2 separate regions of the Homo sapiens genome follow, and region 1 is linked to region 2. The links come from fine-mapping of genetic effects on gene expression. A gene starts in region 2. The other region holds a variant in brackets. All regions are shown on one strand. Distances are from middle to middle.

Region 1 (11,022 bases), 210 kb after region 2:
CCCAAAGTACTTTTGGAACTCCATATAAAGGAGAGGGATGATACTCCGTCCGGTCGAGGGGAAGGGAGCACACATCTTCCCTCTAGGATGGCTTCTTTTAAGCTATTTTTTGCTTTTGGAGGCATGGCTAAATTGATTACAGCTACAGACCAGGCTGTGCAACTGCCCAGATCCTTTGAAAATTGGGCACAGAGTCTCCTGTAAGTCACAGAAGCTGAAAAAACACAGCCGTCCTCGAACAAAAGAGGAAAATGAGGTCAGAAAAGGAAAGTTCACACAGACTTGGTTCTTTTCACTTTGTGACAAGGCCAACAAATGTACTGAGAAACACTAGATTGTTTTAATGGGGACCCTTGTGGGAAACGAGGAGAAAGCATTGTGAACTTCAACCACATTGAAACTTCACACAGGCTAGCCTTTGTCAGCCTGTGGGATAAAGAGAGAAATAGCTTCTAAAAGAGAGAGTAGGGAATGGATCCACCCATATGCATTCCTTCCAAGTCGGTTATAGATTATAGTACCTTTGAAAAACATTCTTTTCTGCTTCTCACACATTTTGTAAGACCTGATGAGCCAAAAATGTTACTGACAGATTCCTTCCATTCTGGGACCTCAACTGCTAGACTGGGTTCTGTGGCAACTAGAATTACTGTTTGACATACAGGATTCGGTTGTTGGCTTTAATAAGTTCATCATCTCTTTCCATGAGTGGTGGTCAGGGCGGCGCAGGGCACAGCATGCAGGCAGAGGGCGATGGTCTCTGACGGGAGTCCGCTTGCAGAAGGATGGAGCTGACTCCCGCTGCCTGCCGAAGAGCCAGGGGAGTAGTGAGTCTCTGAATTCCCCCTATGCTCACAAGCCAACCAAGAAGCCTAGCGAAGAGGATTTTAAAATGCATTGGGAGAATGTTGGAATGTGCAGGGAATTCCCTGCTTATTTCCCAGACAGTCAAGTATGCACCCAGAGGATTAGGAGAGAGAAAGTGAGTCCCACCATTCTGGGGGCTCAGCAGAGCCTGCTTCCTTGCCCACCCTCCCCCGGGCTCCCCTGGCACGGACCTACCGAGCAGACTAGGATCGCTGTTCCAGAAAATCCCAAGGGTCTGCTGCGGGCTCACTTAAAATCCCGGTTTTGATCCAGCAGAAGTGGTGTTGTCTTTAAAATCTCTGCATGACGGTGAATTCATGAGCCTCCTGGTGAAGGCAGGAAGGAACCGATTCCTTGTGCTGAGTCATAGCGTAAACCTTGAGGTGAAAAAGCCCAAGTGTAGAGCAGGCACAGTCACTGAGTGCACGTGTTCGTGCCAACCTGGGTGCCCTCTGTGAAACAAGCCCTGGGGAAAGGTATTGCCTCTTCATTCGATTATTTTCAGGAACACTCTCAGCCACTGGCAGGTGTTCCATCTGCACCCCAGCTGATGGCCTACCTTCTTTCCTCCCAGGCCTGCTGGTCTAGAGCTGGCAGTGGGATGGAGACCTGCCTGAGGGAGAGAGGGCCCGTGTGTGCTGGCCCCTCTGTCTTCCGCTGCACAGCTTGGCAGCTGACCAGGTGCTTAGTTGTTGGTTAAACCCCCCAAAGCCTCGGCGCCACCCAGCATCCTTCTCCATTGAAACTGGCTAGCTCAGCCTCCCAGAGGTCAGCTGCAGAGCACAACCCAAGAGGCACTGCAGACCCCTCTGTGGGTCAGGACATCAGAGTCCTGACAGATTTCAACAGATTTTTGTGGCTTGGTCGTGACCAGCCAGAGAGCTCAAGTTCCCACTCCACTCCCAGGAAATTACCCCCGTGGCCGCCAGGCGTGTTGAGTCTCTCATCTTGCCTCTTAATGATATGTTCTTTCCCCTCTGGTCCTCTTGATGTCCCCCCGCAGGGTGCAGGCTGCACTGCCCTTGTGGTGGCCGTGGTGGCCCGAAAGCTGGAACTCACCAAAGCGGAGAAGCACGTTCATAACTTCATGATGGACACTCAGCTCACCAAGCGGGTAAGATGCCACACAGCCATGTCTTATGGGGGACTTAAGGCCACAGTGGAAGCCAATCAGAAAGCAAATGGTCCAACGGGTGCAGTGGCTCACGCCTGTAATCCCAACACTTTAGGAGGCTGAGGAGGGTCGATCACAAGGTCAGGAGATCAAGACCATCCTGGCTAATACGTTGAAACCCCATCTCTACTAAAAATACAGAAAATTAGCTGGGCATGGTGGCACACACCTGTAGTCCCAGCTACTCAGGAGGCTGAGGCAAGAGAATTGCTTGAACCTGGGAGGCGGAGGTTGCAGTGAGCCGAGATCGCACTACTGCACTCCAGCCTGGGTGACAGAGAGAGATTCCATCTCAAAAAAAAAAAAAAAAGAAGGAAGGAAGGAAGCAAATGGTCATGTCGTATGGGTTTGCACCAGGCTTTTAAAGGGTGTGTTTGAGGGAACCCCAGACACAAAATGGAAACAGCACCTTCATACGCCGGGTTCCTGTCTTCTGTTCGATCACTGTGCATGGTTCAGGCAGCCAAATAATTTTCCTGGTAATTTAATTAATAGCCTACAATGGTATAACCTGCCCCTTTGCCTGATGATACCAAATAAATCACGGTATGAGGCAATGTTTTTTGTTTATGCTCAAATATTTTCAGGATTCTCATTAGGAAGGGCAAAACTATATTGAAAATATACCTAAAACTATAAAAGTATATTGAAAATGTACCTAAGTCTAATCCTTTAAAAAAAATCATTTAAAGAATCATTCTATGCTGGGAGCGGCGGCTCACGCCTGTAATCCCAGCACTTTGGGAGGCCGAGGCGGGCGGAGCATGAGGTCAAGAGATCGAGACCATCCTGGCCAACATGTGAAACCCCGTCTCTACTAAAAATACAAAAATTAGCTGGGTGTGGTGGCAGTCACCTGTAATCCCAGCTACTCAGGAGGCTGAGGCAGGAGAATCACTTGAACCCAGGAAGCGGAGGTTGCAGTGAACCGAGATCGCGCCACTGCACTCCAGCCTGGGCGACAGAGCAAGACTCCATCTCAAAAAAAAAAAAAAAGAATCATTCTAGTAGAGCCCACATCCCTAAATAAAATTGTTCATCAAAACATCATCATCCAATTTTTCCCTTTTGGGTTTTCCGGGTAATGTTTCTCACTTGAACCATTATGGAAGTGGTTATGGAAGATGAAAATCTGAAAATATGCAGGAATGGGTAGACCATTTAGCTGCTGAAAGTTGGACACCCCACTGAATTGTCTGAGATGAAAAGACCCATTTAGAATAGACAGATACAAGCCTTCCAGAATAACAGCAGGCCAAATGGGCAAGGCAGGAGCTGTTTATTCAAGGACAGCTTTTATGGAAAATTCTTTAGAACTACAGCCTGAAGGAAGGTCAGTAAGATGATTTCCTGCAAGACTGTCCTCTTTCTGAGACGAGACAGAATTAAAACCCTGTGCCCGTGTCTCGGCCTCCATAGTCTTTTTCATTTAGGACTGAAGTAGGTTAAGGGACCCATGAGCAACCAAATTTTGATTTGGGTTTTTGAAAGCTAGAGAAAATATTCAGTGATTAATGTTGCACAGCAGCAAAAATGTGTTAGAAATAGAGACAACGGCAGGAAGGAAGAACAAAAAGAGAGAGAGAGAGAATGACAGAGGGAGCTGCGAGCGAGCTCTTGGGGAAGGCAGTGGGAGAGTGTGCAGCGGCCAAGGCCTCTCCAGTTTCTCAGCAGAATTATTTATGGTGTTTGATTGTTTGGTCTTTGATTACATTTATTGGATTCTGTAAAGAGCCTTAACAGACATTAAAAGGAACTGGTACGGGCAAATATTCTTATGTTGTTGACATTCAAGTGTTTGTACTTGATACATCATGGCCCTGAGCTATCAGCTGCACCAAAAAAAGCCATGATTTGTCACATCACGATGGCAGTGATTGAAGGCTGTTATCACAGTAAGGCCTGCCGGGAACCCTGCCACTTGGCCACTCTCTTTCAGCCCCCTCTAATAATGGGTGCAAAAGTCATGCTCAGTATTGAGGAAATTATTCAAGTTATTGAAACACCTAAATGCAAATCCACTTGCATCTATTTTCCTGAAGCAATTTACTGAGGTTTCACTGGATTGAAACTACGTGCCGGAGTGAGGGCAGGGAGATGTTTTGCCTCCAAAGCCTTCTCATAAGCTGTTTACCAAGAGTAGAGACATTAGCAGTCTCTCTGTTTATTCTGGTTTTCTTTTTTAAGCCAAGAATATTCTTTGTATTTGGTGTTATTCCTTTGTCCTCTCCATTTTTCACCAAGTAGATCAGACGCTAGAGGAAAATAAAGCTGAGGAAAGCCAGCTCCTTTGTATGCCAGGAAAATAAACAATTTTTCTGCAATATAATTGTAGAAGATGAGACTGTGGTTGCTAATTTTAATCTTTCAAAAATGATTCCCTAACATCCTCCTCAATTCCACTTCTTGAAAAGTAGGACTGAAAATCAAATCAACAAATATTTATTGCTCACCCATGAATCTAAGGTAGCTTTTTAATCGAATAACATCTCACTTTTCTGAGAACACTTAAATCTGTTGAAATGTCTCTTTAATATCTAATATCTTTTCTCAAGGAAATAAACAACACAGAAGGGATGGTTCTTACAGAGAGAAGGTTTTCAAAGCTGGCAGGACTAGAACTTCTGAAGGTTCTTTTACATAACCTTAATTGAAATGAAACTGGATGTGTGCATCCTTGGCCTGCTCTGGTTTGAGCTGACTTTGACCTGCTCACAAGAGAACCCCACCTCTCTTCCCCTGGGGATGCCTGGCCTGCCTTCTGTCCTCTTGAAATGGTCCATTGTATCAAGCTGGAGTGGCTCATTGGTCAAGAAGATGCTAAGCAGCCGGGTGCGGTGGCTCACGCCTGTAATCCCATCACTTTGGGAGGCCGAGGTGGGTGGATCATGAGGTCAGGAGTTCGAGACTAGCCTGACCAACATGGTGAAACCCTGACTCTACTAAAAATACAAAAATTAGTGGGGCGTGGTGGCACACACCTGTAATCCCAGCTACTCAGGAGGCTGAGGCAGGAGAATCGCTTGAATCTGGGAGGCAGAGTTTACAGTGAGCCGAGATCCCACCACTGCACTCCAGCCTGGGCAACAGAGCAAGACTCTGTCAAAAAAAAGAAAAAAAAAAAAAGAAATACTCACTCTCAGACATGATCCTTAGAAGCTCTTGGCCGGGCGCGGTGGCTCATGCCTGTAATGCCAGCACTCTGGGAGGCCGAGGCAGATGGCTCAGGAGGTCAGGAGATTGAGACCTTCCTGGCTAACACAGTGAAACGCTGTCTCTACTAAAAAAAAATCCAAAAAAATTAGCCGGGCGTAGTGGCACGTGCCTGTAGCCCCAGGTACTCGGGAGACTGAGGCAGGAGAATCGCTTCAACCTGGGAGGCGAAAGTTGCAGTGAGCCGAGATCGTGCCACTGCACTCCAGCCTGGGCAACTGAGCGAGACTCCATCTCAAAAAAAAAAAAAAAAAAAATGCTAAGCTCAGTCTATTCATAACATCTCAGTGAATTCTCAGAGAAAGATCCAACATGAAGGAGTTGACTGTGGCATAATTGCAACCTCTTCGGAGTGGGCAATTAGTAGATTTGACAGATAAAAGCAGTCTCTTACCGGTATATGCAACCTTGATGCTTCAAAGACCTACGCAAAACGAAAAAAGGAATTGTAGCTATTAATCATAGAAAATACTCAAATTGTTCTAGTATTTATTCATCCTGTCTTGCTCTAAAGACTGCAGCCTAGCCTTTGCCATGAGAGCCAGCACTATTTTTATTTATTTGTTTGTAGGGAGGGAAGAGGGTCTGATAGCACTGGGTAAGAACTCAATTTCTGCTTTTCTTGAGTCCCATGCTTATCTTCTTTCCTCGTATGACTTATCAACTCTGGTGGCAACGTCATTTCTGTATTTAATTCAATCAGATCTTCCCACACTGACTTCGCAGTGTCACTGCCATTGTTATTCTGTAATTATAACTTATTGCTAATCTCTGGGCTACTAGATAATATTTAAGTACATGATTCACAGAGGGACTGGAAGAAAGATACTAGAGCCCCATCTTTTCTGCCACTTAGTGTTTTCATGTCCCCATCTTTCTGTTTTATGTAGCTAAACAGATCCATCACAGAGGCCACTCCCTGGGTGCCACACTCTGTACTCTGGGGGCACCAAGATGGGTAAGAGGTGGTCCTCACCTCCATCCCTAACCTCTGGTGGCTGACTGCCCTCAGAGAGCACTTCTTCTTATAAGAGGTAGAGTGGGCCGGGTGCGGTGGCTCACGCCTGTAATCCCAGCACTTTGCGAGGCCGACGTGGGCGGATCACTTGAGGTCAGGAGTTCAAGACTAGCCTGGCGAACATGGTGAAACCCCGTCTCTACTAAAAATACAAAAAATTAGCCGGGCATGGTGGTGGGTGCCTGTAATCCCAGCTTCTCGGGAGGCTGAGGCAGGAGAATTGCTTGAACCCAGGAGGCGGAGGTTACAGTGAGCTGAGATCGTGCCACTGCACTCCAGCCTGGGTGACAGAGTGAGACTCCATCTCAAAAAAAAAAAAAAAAGGAAAGAAAAAGAAAAAAAAGGCAGAGTGGGCTGCTATGGACACACTTGGCTTGGGAGGCACCATGGACCGGAGATATTTTCTTTGCGGTACCTACTCTCCACATCAAGCCACAGTGAGCAGAACCTTCAGACAGCACAGTGTGCTAAGGATCCTATCTCCTTCTTGCTGCAGGGGTTTCTTGCCCCAAGTAGCTCACCCAAGTACACTTCCCCATGAATTCAATGAATAAGACCAAAATTAAACCCACAACTTCCCTAAACTA[T/C]TTCCTTCTCCTAACTTCCCTGGTGTGCTCCTGACATCGTGTTCTTCCAGACGCCAGGCCTAAAGACTTAGCCCCATTTCTGACTCCTCTGGACCCTGGACCCCACGAGGGTCTGAGCACTTTCTGTGTCTGATTTCACCTTGCCGTGGCTGTTCACGCATGCCCGCCTCTCCAGGGCCTCGGCCCCGCCACTCTTGAAGCCGCCATCTTCTGTCTCGCACTATCACAGCAGCCTGCTACCTGCTCTCCTCACTTCGGCGTCCCTTACCCCAGTCATCCTGCACTCTGCTTCCCCATGGATCTCCTTAGACTCTCAGGCTTAGCTCTGAACAAATTACTTCCTGCTCAAAAACCTTTAAGTAGTTTCCCCACCTACTATCTCCTGAATGACACTGAAGAAAACTTTTCTTTAATTACAAGCATATGCCAAAGTTTGATCATAATCTTGCTAGAAGAAAATTTTCTTCAGCAGGCTAATTCAAAGATTACTCTTAGTAGTGGTATTTCGTAGGAAAAACAATGGTAGTCATTGTTATGCCAGATTATAGAAGGTTTAGCTAAAGACTGCTAATGGACAGCTGGTTGGGCTCAACAGTGGATTTCCAGAACAAGTCTTCAAGTCTTTACAATGGATCAGATAATCAATAGGGCAGTTATCAGGAATGCTAATTCTCCCCAGAAGAGGATTATAAATTACATCACGCACAAGGTTCTGTCCCAGACAGATTGGGTGCAGGTTTTCTTTAGCAATAGTCACAGAAACAATGTGCGTTTAAGCTGGAAGGACCCTTAGGGAAGAGCCACTCCAACCCACATGAGAAGACGAAGGCCCAGAAAGGGGCGAGGGTGGGCCCCCGGCCTATGCAAGATCCACTTTGCTCTCAGACCATCAGGCAGGCAGCTTTAGGGCGGTCAGTTCCTTGGAACTCAGCATGGGGTTAGGGTCCCAGACCTGCTGAAAAGAAAAGCCAGCTTAACTCCACCCTAACTGAGTATCACATAAATAGCATTATAGAATTATCCACCACCCATTACCATATTGCTACAGGGAGAACCTCAAGCTCCAACTCTGAACAACGGAAATACACCTCCTCTCTCTCTACCCAATTTCCTGCCAGCCAGAGAGGTGGAGCTCCCAGTTCTAAGTGGTCAGTGAGGGCCTCTGGGTGAGGCAGGCAGAGAAGCCTGTAAAGGGAGTGTGGAATAGAACAGGGGGAGGAAAAAGAGGAGGTGCAAGCAGGGTGATGAAAGAGAGGGCAGCCGGGGAAGCCAGAGCAAGTCTGCAGGGTGGTGATGAGGGGAGAGTGGGCTTGGCAAATGGGAAAGAGGAACCAGCCCCCTTCTCTAGTCCTGTGTGTAATGGACACCTTCAGTCAAGGGCTGGCTTGCAGGTTCTCCGATAGTGATCTGATCATCACTCAGCCTAATTTCAACCTGTGTAACTCCTTGAAGTTACAGTCATGCACTGCATAACAAGTTTCAGTCAATGATGGTGCACATATACCAAGGTGGTCTCAGAAGGCTATAACAGAGCTGAAAAATTCCTCTCCCCTAGTGATTTGTGTTACAGTGGCCTACAGTACAGGAATGTGCCATACAGGCTTGTAGCCTAGGAGCGATAGGCTATACCATACAGCCTAGGTGTGTAGTAGGCTGTCCCATCTAGGTTTGTTTAAGTACACTCTGTGATGTTCACACACTGAAGAAATTGTCCAAGATGTGTGTATTTAAATCACACCCACCGGCCAGGCCTCCCTTTCCCCGTCTCCAACCTCCAAGTAGAATACTTCCCTGGCAAGGGTTCCTGGCAGCATAATGGGCATGCTAGTGATTTCTTCTCTGGGGGGCTCTGCTAATGGGACCCCTGGAATTTCCCAGGGCTCCTGGGGCTGCTGGAGGCTTAGGGTGCCCAAGAAAGGTGCTCCTTTCATCCCCCTTGTACTCCTGCCCCAAGCATTCTTGCCGCAACCGACAGCCCCTCTGTAATAGCAAGTAGCAGGTTACCTGGGCAGAGAGGTGGCCAGAGCAAGTCATTGACATGGGATGCTGCGGCCAAGAGCTCAAGGAAGAGGTGTGTGTTCTGTTGTATGTTTTCTTGCTGGCTGGGGAAGTTAGAGGGAAGGAAGCTGACATTTATTGGAAGGAGAGAATATTAACAAAGGTACCATGTATTGAGGCATATGGCCAGGATCTGTGCTAATGTTTTAAGTATATTCTCATTTAATCAACACAGTAATCCCATTTCACAGATGCAGGTAGTACTTGCATCACTCTCTAGCCCTGGACCCTGCTTTGTTGTTGTGGTTTTTTAAGCGCTTGTTACCTGATGCTATCATACAAACTGCATACCGTCTTCTCCGCAGGATTGTAAGTTCCGTAAGCGCAGCAATGTTATTGATTTGTTCACTGTGGTACCGTCACTTGCTACAACAATGTCTGGCCCATCATAGGTGCTCATTAATTGTTCCTCAAATGTATGAACAAAGAGAGTCTCAGAGAGTTCAGCAGTGGGTCCAAGGTGGAGCTGATGATCACGTCTATTTATCAAGTTTTTCTGAGGGTTAATGAACCAGTGCAGACATATGTGCTTAGCACAAAGCCTGGCACGTAGTAAGCACTCAGTATATGTTAGCTGTCACCATAATTTGCAAGGTCTTCATTGGACCACTTTCTTGCCCAGGCCCATTAATCTTAGAGCCTTTCCTAAAGTAGATCATAGAGCCCATTGTCTGGCCCCAATCAGAGTGAAAGCAATTTTTTGGTAGAGAGTTTTTGGGCTTGCAGAAAACAATCAGCCAATTTGTTTATGGGTTTTGGAGGCAGGACAGCTGGACTTCCATTCACAAAGGGTCCTCTCCTAACCATCCCCAAACCCATCCGATTGTGGCCAACCTTGAGCCACTCTTTCTGGCTTGCTGCTTTCATCTTAAGCCCTGCCCTCTCGCACTGCTGCACCCTGAGAGCATCTTTTGGCCCTGGTGCCTCTGCCCACCAGGAGAGGTCAGGTGGTACCCAAGCCTCCCTCAAGGAAGGGTGCATGGAGCCCTTTGGAGGCTCGGCAAATCTGAGGAAGGGCACATGACCTCATGTGCTCCCGACCCCAACAATGCTTAGATCAATCAGCCAGGTGAACTGGAGGGAGACCCTGGCCACAATAGCATTTACTGTCCACCTGGGAAAGCACAGTGCAGTTAAAAGCCTATTTCTTTTTCTCTCGCAGATATTGATCTACTTAGCTTTGTGCCAGGCTGTTTGCTGGTAATTAATTTCAGAGTCAGTGCAAGGGCTGGCAGTTAACATCACTTTCCCGAATGCACGGAGGCCTCCCTCCAAACTCATAAAGATGATGTGACTGCCTCTCTCAGCTACCCGGGCCGTGCTGTGACTTCAGTATCTTACATTTGGGCTGACGTTAAGTGCAGGACCTGGACTCCGTGTTCTGTCACATTGCTAAGTGAGGGCCATGATGATTTAAAAAAAAAAAAAATCCAGTGCTCTTTCCAGTTCCTTGATCCTGGAAAACAGGAAATGATTTTGTTTGTCTTTCCTTCAGTCCACATGAAAACCTTCTGCTCTTCCTGGACGTGGCTCTTGTTTTGACTTTGCCATTAGCTAGCTGTGTGATTCTGGCTCTCACATCCCATCTCTGAAGTGGTTTCCTCGTATGTTCAATGAGGGGTTTGAGCTAGATAATATTAACTAATATCTGTATGGTACTTTACATTTTATGTAGCATTCACACCCACACTGACTCAGTTTGCCATTAATAATTGTCTAGTCTTGGTCTGTGTCTTGGTTTCTTCATCTGTAAAATGTGGATAATGTTAGCACCTCCCTGATGGGGTTGTGGTGAGGATTAAAGGAGCTTAGACATATGAAGTACTCAGACCTGTGGCTGCACCTGGTAGATGTTAAGTGTTGCCCCCAGCACCATCATCACTGCCTCATAGCAGCCCTCTTTATTTTTCCCATCTTACAGATAATGAAGCATTTGCTCCTAAACTGCTTAATAATTGACAGAGCAGGGATTCACCTGCAGACTTTCCAGTTTCCTTGAGGCTTTCCTAAGAGGCTAAGTGCGTAGGGAAACTGAAGAAATGACACATCCAATTGCCTCCTCTCCCTGCAAGAGGAGGGCAGTAGTATTAAATGTGTGCTCTGCA
Region 2 (8,873 bases):
GCTGTTGCCATGGGAACCTCCCAGGGTTACCCTGACACAGGAATGTCTCCTCATCCTGCCTGGTTCTGGGCCACAGATGTTCCTGGCCCCTTCACATGCTCACAGCAGGGGTCTGGTAGGGACAGTGCAGGTTGCAGGGTAGGGGTGTGGAGGGCTGTTGCCTAAATCAGACAACAGGTTCTTCCCCTCCCCAACTCAGCTGCCTGAGCCACAGAAGCCCCTTGTTAAGCACTTATCTGAGTTCCCTGTCCCACCTCTCCCAGGTCTCCCTTAAGGTGGCCACCCATCTCTTTGGTAACCTTTGGCACCCAGGATAGGTGACTGCCGCTCCCAAATGGAGAACAACAGTGAACCCCTTCCCCGCTCACCTGTTCTTCTGGCTGGGCCTGTTCCTGGCTCACCTGTTCCTGGGCCAGGGGGGCTCCCAGCCCAGATCTTTTCTAACCAGAGCTTTGACCTGAGCGAGATTTGAAGTCGGAAACCCCAGAGTGGCGGTCTCCACCGCTGCCCACCTGTGGGCCTTGGGCAAGAGGGCTCTCCTTGCTTAAGGGCTCAGCTTTCTCATCATTGAAGTGGAGACCACAGACTCTGCTCTCAGAGGCTGTCCCGAGGGTGAGATGAGTCAATGTAAGATACATGAAAAGGCTTTGCAAGCTAAAGGGCACTGAAACAGAGCAGTTATTTTTATTGTACTTAACCTCTAAGGGGGAAACTGGGAGCCACTGGGAGCTACTGATATGGGAGGAAAGGGTGTTGGTTCCCCGATGTGGCAGGAGCTGGCGGGAAAAGATGCTAACTAGCATTCAGGTCTCAATACTGTGCTAGATGCTGTGGGGCCCCCCAATCCTTGCCCCGAGGCTAATTGGATTAGCTGCATACAAAGCAGAATTTTAATAGTACTCTCTTAATGGTGCCAGGAGCAGTCTGCCAACTGGGTGAAGAGGAAGAAAGGGGTGGCCTTTGAGTTGGATCTTGAAAGATAATAGGATTTCAGAGATGGGAGAATGGGGGAAGGTATTTCAGGCTAGGCAAAGGTGAGGCCTGAGGTAAGGGTGTTATAGCCTATAGCTAGATGGTTCACAGAGGGGGCAAATTCTGCCACTGGCAGCCTGCAGGTCTGAGGGGATGGCTACTGTAGGAAATGGGAGGGGTGCCACTAATCCTCACCATTCCCCCCACCCTCCACTTCCTCTCCAGAGCAGGGCCCCTTTGCAGGAGTTCTCACCAGCATGGGGCACTTACCTTCGCTCAGCCCCAGGGGAGGCATTCAGCAGAGGGGAGGGTCATCCATTGAGGTCATCACTGAGACTCTGTTCAAAATCAAAGGGACAGGTCATCTGGCTAGAGCAGGATAGGCAGACACCTGAAGCCACATGCTGTGGAGAGGAAAGTGCTAGATAGCTCCCTTTGGAAGGTCCATTGCCCATGGGTCAAACAGGCTGGCCATCAATGCTTGCTCATCTGGAATGACAGGACTAGTCCAGAAATAGTGGCATGAGGCCAGCAAAGGAACAGGCTGGCTGGGCGCTGTGGCTCATGCCTGTAATTCCAGCACTTTGGGAGGCTGAGATGGGAGGTTGGCTTGAGGCCAGGAGTTCGAGACCAGCCTGGGAAACATAGCAAGACCTTATCTCTACTAAAAATTAAAAAAAAAAAAAAAAGTTTAACTCAGCATGGTGGCACACACCTGTAGTCCCAGCTACTCAGCAGGCTGAAGGTGGAAGGATTGCTTGAGCCCAGGACATCAAGGCTGCAGTGAGCTTATGATCCGCCACTGCACTTCCAGCCTGGGCACAGAGTGAGACCCTGTCTCAAAAAAAGAAAAGAAACAAGCCATGGCTGTCATCTAGGTGGATCATTAACTTTTCTTTCTTTTTTTTTTTTTTTTTTGAGATGGAGTCTCGCTCTGTTGTTCAGGCTGGAGTGCAGTGGCGTGATCTCTGATCTCCGCTCACTGCAAGCTCCACCTCCTGGGTTCACGCCATTCTCCTGCCTCAGCCTCCCGAGTGTAGCTGGGACTACAGGTGCCTGCCACCACGCTTGGCTGTTTTGTTTTTTTTTTTTTGTATTTTTAGTAGAAATGGGGTTTCACCGTGTTACCCAGGATGGTCTCGATCTCCTGACCTCGTGATCTGCCCGCCTCGGCCTTCCAAAGTGCTGGGATTACAGGCATGAGCCACTGCACCGGGCCACATTTAACTTTTTTCCCCTGGGTTGTGGAAGGCAGGCAGAGCATGTTATATAATGTAACCAGTTCCACCAGCTAGTGGACTTGGGAGGGAAGTGCTACTTTGGGGAGTATTTGAGCAAGTGACCTTGGAGGGTTGGGTGGATGAGCATGTGAGTTTGCAGGTTGAGCAGCTTCTGGTGATGACAAAGCCCAGGGTGTGTCCATAGGAGCTGGCCTCTGAGGAGGAGAGGGGGGAAAAGGCTTTGAACAGCCAGGGCCAAGGGATTGAGCAGCGGGGTGTTGGATGGGCTGGCCATGACCGTGATGTCACCGAGGATGATGACAGCAACTCTGTAGAAAAGGAGACTGGGAGCCAGTGGCTGAGTCTCAGAAAATGAGAATGAGGCTGGGTGCAGTGGCTTACACTGGTAATCCCGGCACTTTTGGAGGCTGAGGCCAGAGAGGACTGCTTGAGCCCAGGAATTCCAGACTAGCCTGGCCAACATAGCAAGACCCCGTCTGCATAAAGAAACAAAAGAAAATGAAAATGAACCACCAGGATTGCTGGGCTGCCAGTACTGAGGAAAGCAGGAGGGTAGCGCAGGCAGGTGGCATGAGCCTTAGAGGAACCATAGTTTTCCAAGAGGCAGGATGAGTAATGGTGTGGAAATTAAAATGGGGAGGAAGGGAGGCCATAGACTCAAAGCGGATGCTGAGGGATGAGGGCTGGGAGACTAAAGCCTCCACTTGAGACACCAGTAAGGGACAGTGGAGTTCAGTTGAGGCATACTAGGAAGCCTAGTATGGGGGAAGTTTTTTTTTATTTTTTGAGACGGAGTCTTTTTCTGTTGTCCAGGCTGGAGCGCAGTGGTACAATCTTGGCTCACTGCAACCTCTGCCTCCCAGGTTCAAGTGTTCTCATGCCTCAGCCTCCTGAGTAGCTGGATTGCAGGTGCCCGCCACCACGTCCAGCTATCCAGCTAATTTTTGTATTTTTAGTAGAGATGGGGTTTCACCATGCTGGCCAGGCTGGTCTCGAACTCCTGCCCTCAGGTGATCCGCCTTGGCCTCCCAAAGTGCGGAGATTACAGGCGTGAGCCTGGGGGAAGTTTTCTGATCGCTCACTAGGTATTCAGGGAGCTGGATCTCAGAGTCAGAGAGGGAGGTAAGGGGCGTGCATTGGGTCAGGTGAGGAAAGAGACTCCGGGAGTAAGTTCTGACTCCTTCCATGTGACTCAGGTAAAACAGGAGATGTGGACTTTCCGTGGAGGCCCAAATACATGTTTATTGAAGATGAGCTGGAAAATCTGATTCTGTGTTGAATGACGAAGTGCTAAGAATAAATAACAACCCCTTACATCTGGATGATACTTGAGAACTTACAAAGTATTTTATTGTACCTTGTCATATATTTTCTTCATTCCTTTCTTATTATAACCCTGGGAAGTGGGCCTTATCAGTGGTAAACTCAGAGTGACTTGCTAAGTGTCCAAGCTGGGACTGAAAATCCACTCTGTGCTGCCTTCTAGGGCGTTGATGAGTGCAGTGTTTTCTGGGTTGCTGAAAAAAAACAAAAAAAACCCCAAAAAACAAAAAACCACCTCCTTAAGTCTGTTCTTTTTGCATCTGACCACTCTCCTGTGCCTCTTTTCAACATTCAGGAAATTAATGGTTTCTCCCTAAGTCTCCACACTACACTTTTTCTCTAGTGGAGGCAGTAATGAGTTGCAGGCTCTGTTCTGACATGCTCAGAAAAATGCAGGACGGCAAGTCATAGCCAAAAACAACTCGACGTACTCAGCTGGGGCAACCCGTCACCTACTGCGGGAAGAGGCAGAACCGGGGATGCAGGGAAAGGACAGATTATTCTTATCCTGCCTCTCAAACTTCTGGCTGGGAGCCAGACTTCGGATGAAACCAGGCAATCTCATCTAGGGATTCAACGCTCCCTTACTATTGATGTCACCCACGCCGTTTGCTTCCGAAAACCTTTGGGCCGGAGGCTGCGGCTAGAAAAGCAATCAAAGGTTTCTCGCCGGGCTTAAAGGGCCACATCTTAGTGACGTCTCGGGTTATAAAATCTGCTTGACAATGAAATATCGTGTGCGCGATTCTGCTCCTCCCCCGACATGACGTGGCCAGACACGCCGCTCGCGTCAGGGCTGCCTTACGCCCCCAGGAAGACCCATTCCCACTCTGGGGCGCGCGCAGATTTGCTGTGGCACATGTACTATAACGCACAGGCAAAAGGGCAGTTTCCAAAACGTCTCCAACGTGATCTCACTCCAGAGATTTTTTTTCCTAAAGTTTTAGGGCTGCGCGGAAGGGAACATGGGGTTCACCTCAGGAAATTTCAGACGTCACCCCCCTCGGAGGAAGGTAGTCGCGTCCGGTTCCTCCCCGGGTGTCAGTTAAGCAGGCCAGGCTGTGAGCGAAGGTTCTGGGCGGGGCTGGACTGTTCTAAGTGAGTTCGGGTGGGGGAGCTTCACGAGGGGAGGCTGCTCTGTGAAGGAACCGCCTTTCTCTCCGCGTGTCTCACCCTTTTCTCCCCATATCTGTTTGGACATGAGCTGAGGGCACGGTCGCGGGCGGTCAGCCCTGTTCGCAGCTACGGCGAGGAGGGGCGCGATTGTTCCTTGTTGCCGCTCCGCTTAGTGGCCGCGTCCATTCCGCGCGGTGTCCCGATTTTAGGGGTAGGGAGAAGTGTCAGCTTCAGGCATCGCGAGGCGTGGCGGCCCCATGGCCCCGCTGGGAGGCGCCCCGCGGCTGGTACTGCTGTTCAGCGGCAAGAGGAAATCCGGGAAGGACTTCGTGACCGAGGCGCTGCAGAGCAGGTGTCCGTGAGGCGGGAAAGGTGGAAGGGGGAGCTCTCCGCATCACGTGACACGAGGAGTGCTTTTGGGTGTCACGGAGTGAGCTTTGGAGTACGGGTCGTCCGTTTGCAAGGCAGGAGGAGCACTGGGCTGGGGAAGGTGGAATGCCACCATTACATAAAACAGTAGTCTACACAGGCGAGCCTCAAAGAAGCAGGTGACCACCTCTCCAAAGACCTTCAGCTGCAGGTCTCTCTGAGAAGCATTAATAATGGTTCCTACGAAGGCACTTTCTATATACCAGGCGTTGGATACCAGCCTGGGCAACATGGCGAGACCCCGCCTCTACGAAAAATCCAAAAAGTAGCTGGGCGTGGTGACGCGTGCCTGTGGTCCCAGCTATTCAGGAGCCTGAGGTAGAAGAATCGCTTGAGCCCGGGAGGCGGAGGTTGCAGTGAGGCGAGATTGGCCACTGCACTCCAGCCTGGGCGACAGAGCGAGACCCTGTCTTAAAAAAACAAAACAAAAAACCCTCTTCACCTCTTTGTTAGGTACTGTGTGCCATTATTAGCATCTCCATTTCACAGGTGAAGAAACTGAGGCTCTTAAAAAGTTAAACAGGCCGGGTGTGGTGGTCATGTCTGTCACCCCAGCACTTTGGGAGACAGAGGTGCGAGGATGGCTTGAGAGCCCAGTAGTGGAGACCAGCCTGGGCAACACAGTAAGACCCTAGTCTCTACAAAAAAATGGAAAAGTTAGCCTAGTGCGATGGCGAGCACCTCTAGTCCAAGCTACTCAGGAGGCTGAGGTGGGAGGATCGCTTGAACCTGGGGGCTACAGTGAATTGTAATCATGCTACTGTCCTCCAGTCCTTGCAGCAGAGCCTGAGACCCTGTCTCGAAGTAAAATAAAATAAAATAACATACGAAGTTAACAACAAAAAACCCTTGCTGGTCACAAAGTAAGTGGCAAATCCAGGATTCAAATTCAGCTTTGTGGTTCATGATGGGCATCTCAGCAATTAATATATAATTGAAACAAAAAGAAAAAAAACCCAAACAAATTCAACTTTATCTTGCGCCAAGGACTGGTTTCTTTCTGTTTTATCTGGCTGCCTCCCCAAATAATAATACCTTTTGCACAGTGTTTTCTGTCAAAGCAAGATCTTCTGTGCAGGAGCATTTTGCTGAGACCTGGGCTAGGAGAGCAGAGGTTGGGGAGAAAGTGGGGCTCCTCTCCTCTTGAAGGCCAGTGTGGTGGGGGTACCAGGAAGCTGCTTTTGGGTACCACGGGGGTTCTATGAAGGTGTGGGAGAGCCCAGAGCAGAGGTCACCACCTGAATTTTTCATCACTAAGTATCTCACCACCTTTTCCTAAGTTGCATTTCTCCTCACCTCCAAACCCTGACGTCAAATAGTGGTCCGAAGCACAGGCTCTGGAATTAGACTGCTGGGATGCAAACCCTGGCTCACTGTTGATTAGTGTGTGATCTTGTACACATCTGTCATTCACTCTGTGCCTCATGTTTTTTTTTTTTTTTTTTTTTTTTTTTTGAGACGGAGTCTTGCTCTGTCACCCAGGCTGGAGCGCACCCAGGTTGCGGCTCACCGCAACCTCTGTCTCCTGGGTTCAAGCGATTTTCCTGTCTCAGCCTCCCGAGTAGCTGGGATTACAGGTGTGTGCCACCATGCCCAGCTAACTTTTGTATTTTTAGTAGAGACAGGTTTCACCATGTTGGCCAGGCTGGTCTGGAACTCCTGACCTCAGGTGATCTGCCTGCCTCGGCCTCCCAGAGTGCTGGGATTACAGACGTGAACCACCACCGCACCTGGCCTGCGTCTCAGTTTTGTCATCTGTAAAATGGGGATGATAATAGGGTGGTTGTGGGGATTAAATGAGATAATGTGTGTGAAGGGCTTAGAATAATTATTGGCACCTAGCAGAGGTGCAGGAACTAAATGTTGGCTATATTTATTTTACCAATCTTGGCTTCACTACTTGCAGTGTTGCTTTGGGGGAGTCAATCCTCCTTTCACAACCTCAGCTTCCTCATCTGAAACATGAAAATAAGAACACTTACAGCCAGGGCAACATAGTGAGACCCCCTCTCTACAAAAGATAAAAAAAATTAGCTGGGTATGGTGGTGCATGCCAGTAATCCCAGATACTCAGGAGGCTGAGGTGCGAGGATTGCCTGAGCCCAGGAGTTCAAGATTGTAGTGAGCTGTGATCATACCACTGCACTCTAGCCTGGGTGACAGCAAGACCCTGACTCTTAAAAAACCAAACCAAAACAAAACAAAGAACACTTATCGTTGGGCGCAGTGGCTCACGCCTGTAATCCTAGCACTTTGAGAGGCCGAGAAGGGTGGATCACTTGAGCTCAGGAGTTCGAGACCAGCCTGACCAACATGGTAAAACCCTTCTCTACTAAAAATACAAAAATTAGTGGGACGTGGTGGCGCCGGCCTGTAGTCCCAGTTACTTGGGAGGCTGAGGCAGGAGAATAGCTTAAACCCAGGAGGTGCAGGTTGCAGTGACCTGAGATTGCACCACTGCATTCCAGCCTGGGCTACAGAGTGAGACTCAGTCTCAAAAACAGCACTTATCTTCCTGTGCGTTAAGTGTATTGTGAGCATCTCAAGGCTAGGACAGGAAGCATGTATCATTCACATTTGTATCACCTAGATCCAAATATGGTACCCAATAAATGGTTGGTTAAGCCAGGAGGCAGAGGTTGTGGTGAGACGAGATGGTGCCACTGTACTCCAGCCTGGACGACAGAGTGAGACTCTGTCTCAAAAAAGAGAAAAAAAGAAGGGCCGTGTGCGGTGGCTCACGTCTGTAATCCCAGCACTTTGCGAGGCTGAGGCGGGCGGATCACGAGATCAGGAGTTTGAGACCAGCCTGGCCAACATGGCAAAACCCCGTCTGTACTAAAAATACAAAAATTAGCCGGGTGTAGTGGCGGGCGCCTGTAATCCCAGCTACTTGGGAGGCCGAGGCAGGAGAATCGCTCAAACCTGGGAGGCGGAGATTGCAGTGAGCCGAGATCGCGCCATTGCACTCCAGCCTGGGTGGTGGAGCAAGACTCCGTCTCAAAAAAAAAAAAAAAAAAAAAGGTTGGTTAAGTAAATTAAATAACGAATGAGTTATTTTTATTTTTATTTTCATTTTTGAGATGGATTTTCACTCTTGTTGCCCAGGCTGGAGTGCAATGGGGCGATCTCGGCTCACTGCAACTTCCACCTCCTGGGTTCAGGTGATTCTCCTGCCTCAGCCTCCCGAGTAGCTGGGATTACAGGCATGCGCCATCATGTCCGGCTAATTTTATGCTTTTAGTAGAGACAGGGTTTCACCGTGTTGGTCAGGCTGGTCTCAAACTCCTGACCTCAGGTGATCTGCTGCCTCAGCCTTCCAAAGTACTGGGATTACAGGCGTGAGCCACCACACCTGGCTTTTGTTTCAGTTTTTTAAATTTGCTTTTCTTATTTCATTTTTATGAGACAGGGTCTCACTCTGTCTCCCAGGCTGGCATACAGTGGTACAATCATGGCTCACTGTAGCCTGGAACTCCTGGGCTCAGGAATGCTCCCACCTCAGCCTCTGGAGTAGCTGGGAGTACAGGCACATGCTGCCATGCTCAGCTAATTTTTAAATTTTTTGGTGGAGATGGTATCTCTGGGTCTTATTGTGTTGCCCAGGCTGGTCTTGAACTCCTGGCCTCAAGCACTCCTCCTGCCTTGGCCTCCCAAAGTATTGGGATTACAGGTGTGAGCCACCATGCCCAACCAGTGAATTAATAAATGATATATGTTATGGTGACCAAGTCAGTGGAGACAGATACCTCTGGCTATGAGAGAATTAGTTTAGGGTCTGGGCAATAACCT

What was found.
Region 1: its variant is fine-mapped to the expression of PMVK in whole blood (INTERVAL, PIP 0.97).

Annotation. Positions count from the first base shown.
Region 1 is chr1:154,716,875-154,727,896 of GRCh38, reverse strand. KCNN3 (potassium calcium-activated channel subfamily N member 3) reads left to right here. Exons shown (of 8, transcript NM_002249.6): 5 at 1,871-1,981. It overlaps LOC124904429 (a long non-coding RNA gene), which reads right to left and starts at 1,186. Exons shown (of 2, transcript XR_007066638.1): 1 at 1,059-1,186; 2 at 667-805. The variant T/C (reference allele first, on the strand shown) is at 6,860.
Region 2 is chr1:154,932,722-154,941,594 of GRCh38, reverse strand. It overlaps PMVK (phosphomevalonate kinase), which reads left to right and starts at 4,876. Exons shown (of 5, transcript NM_006556.4): 1 at 4,876-5,004. The coding sequence starts at 4,910. RefSeq lists enhancers at 3,486-4,427, 4,407-4,606, 4,428-5,370 and a silencer at 5,327-5,426.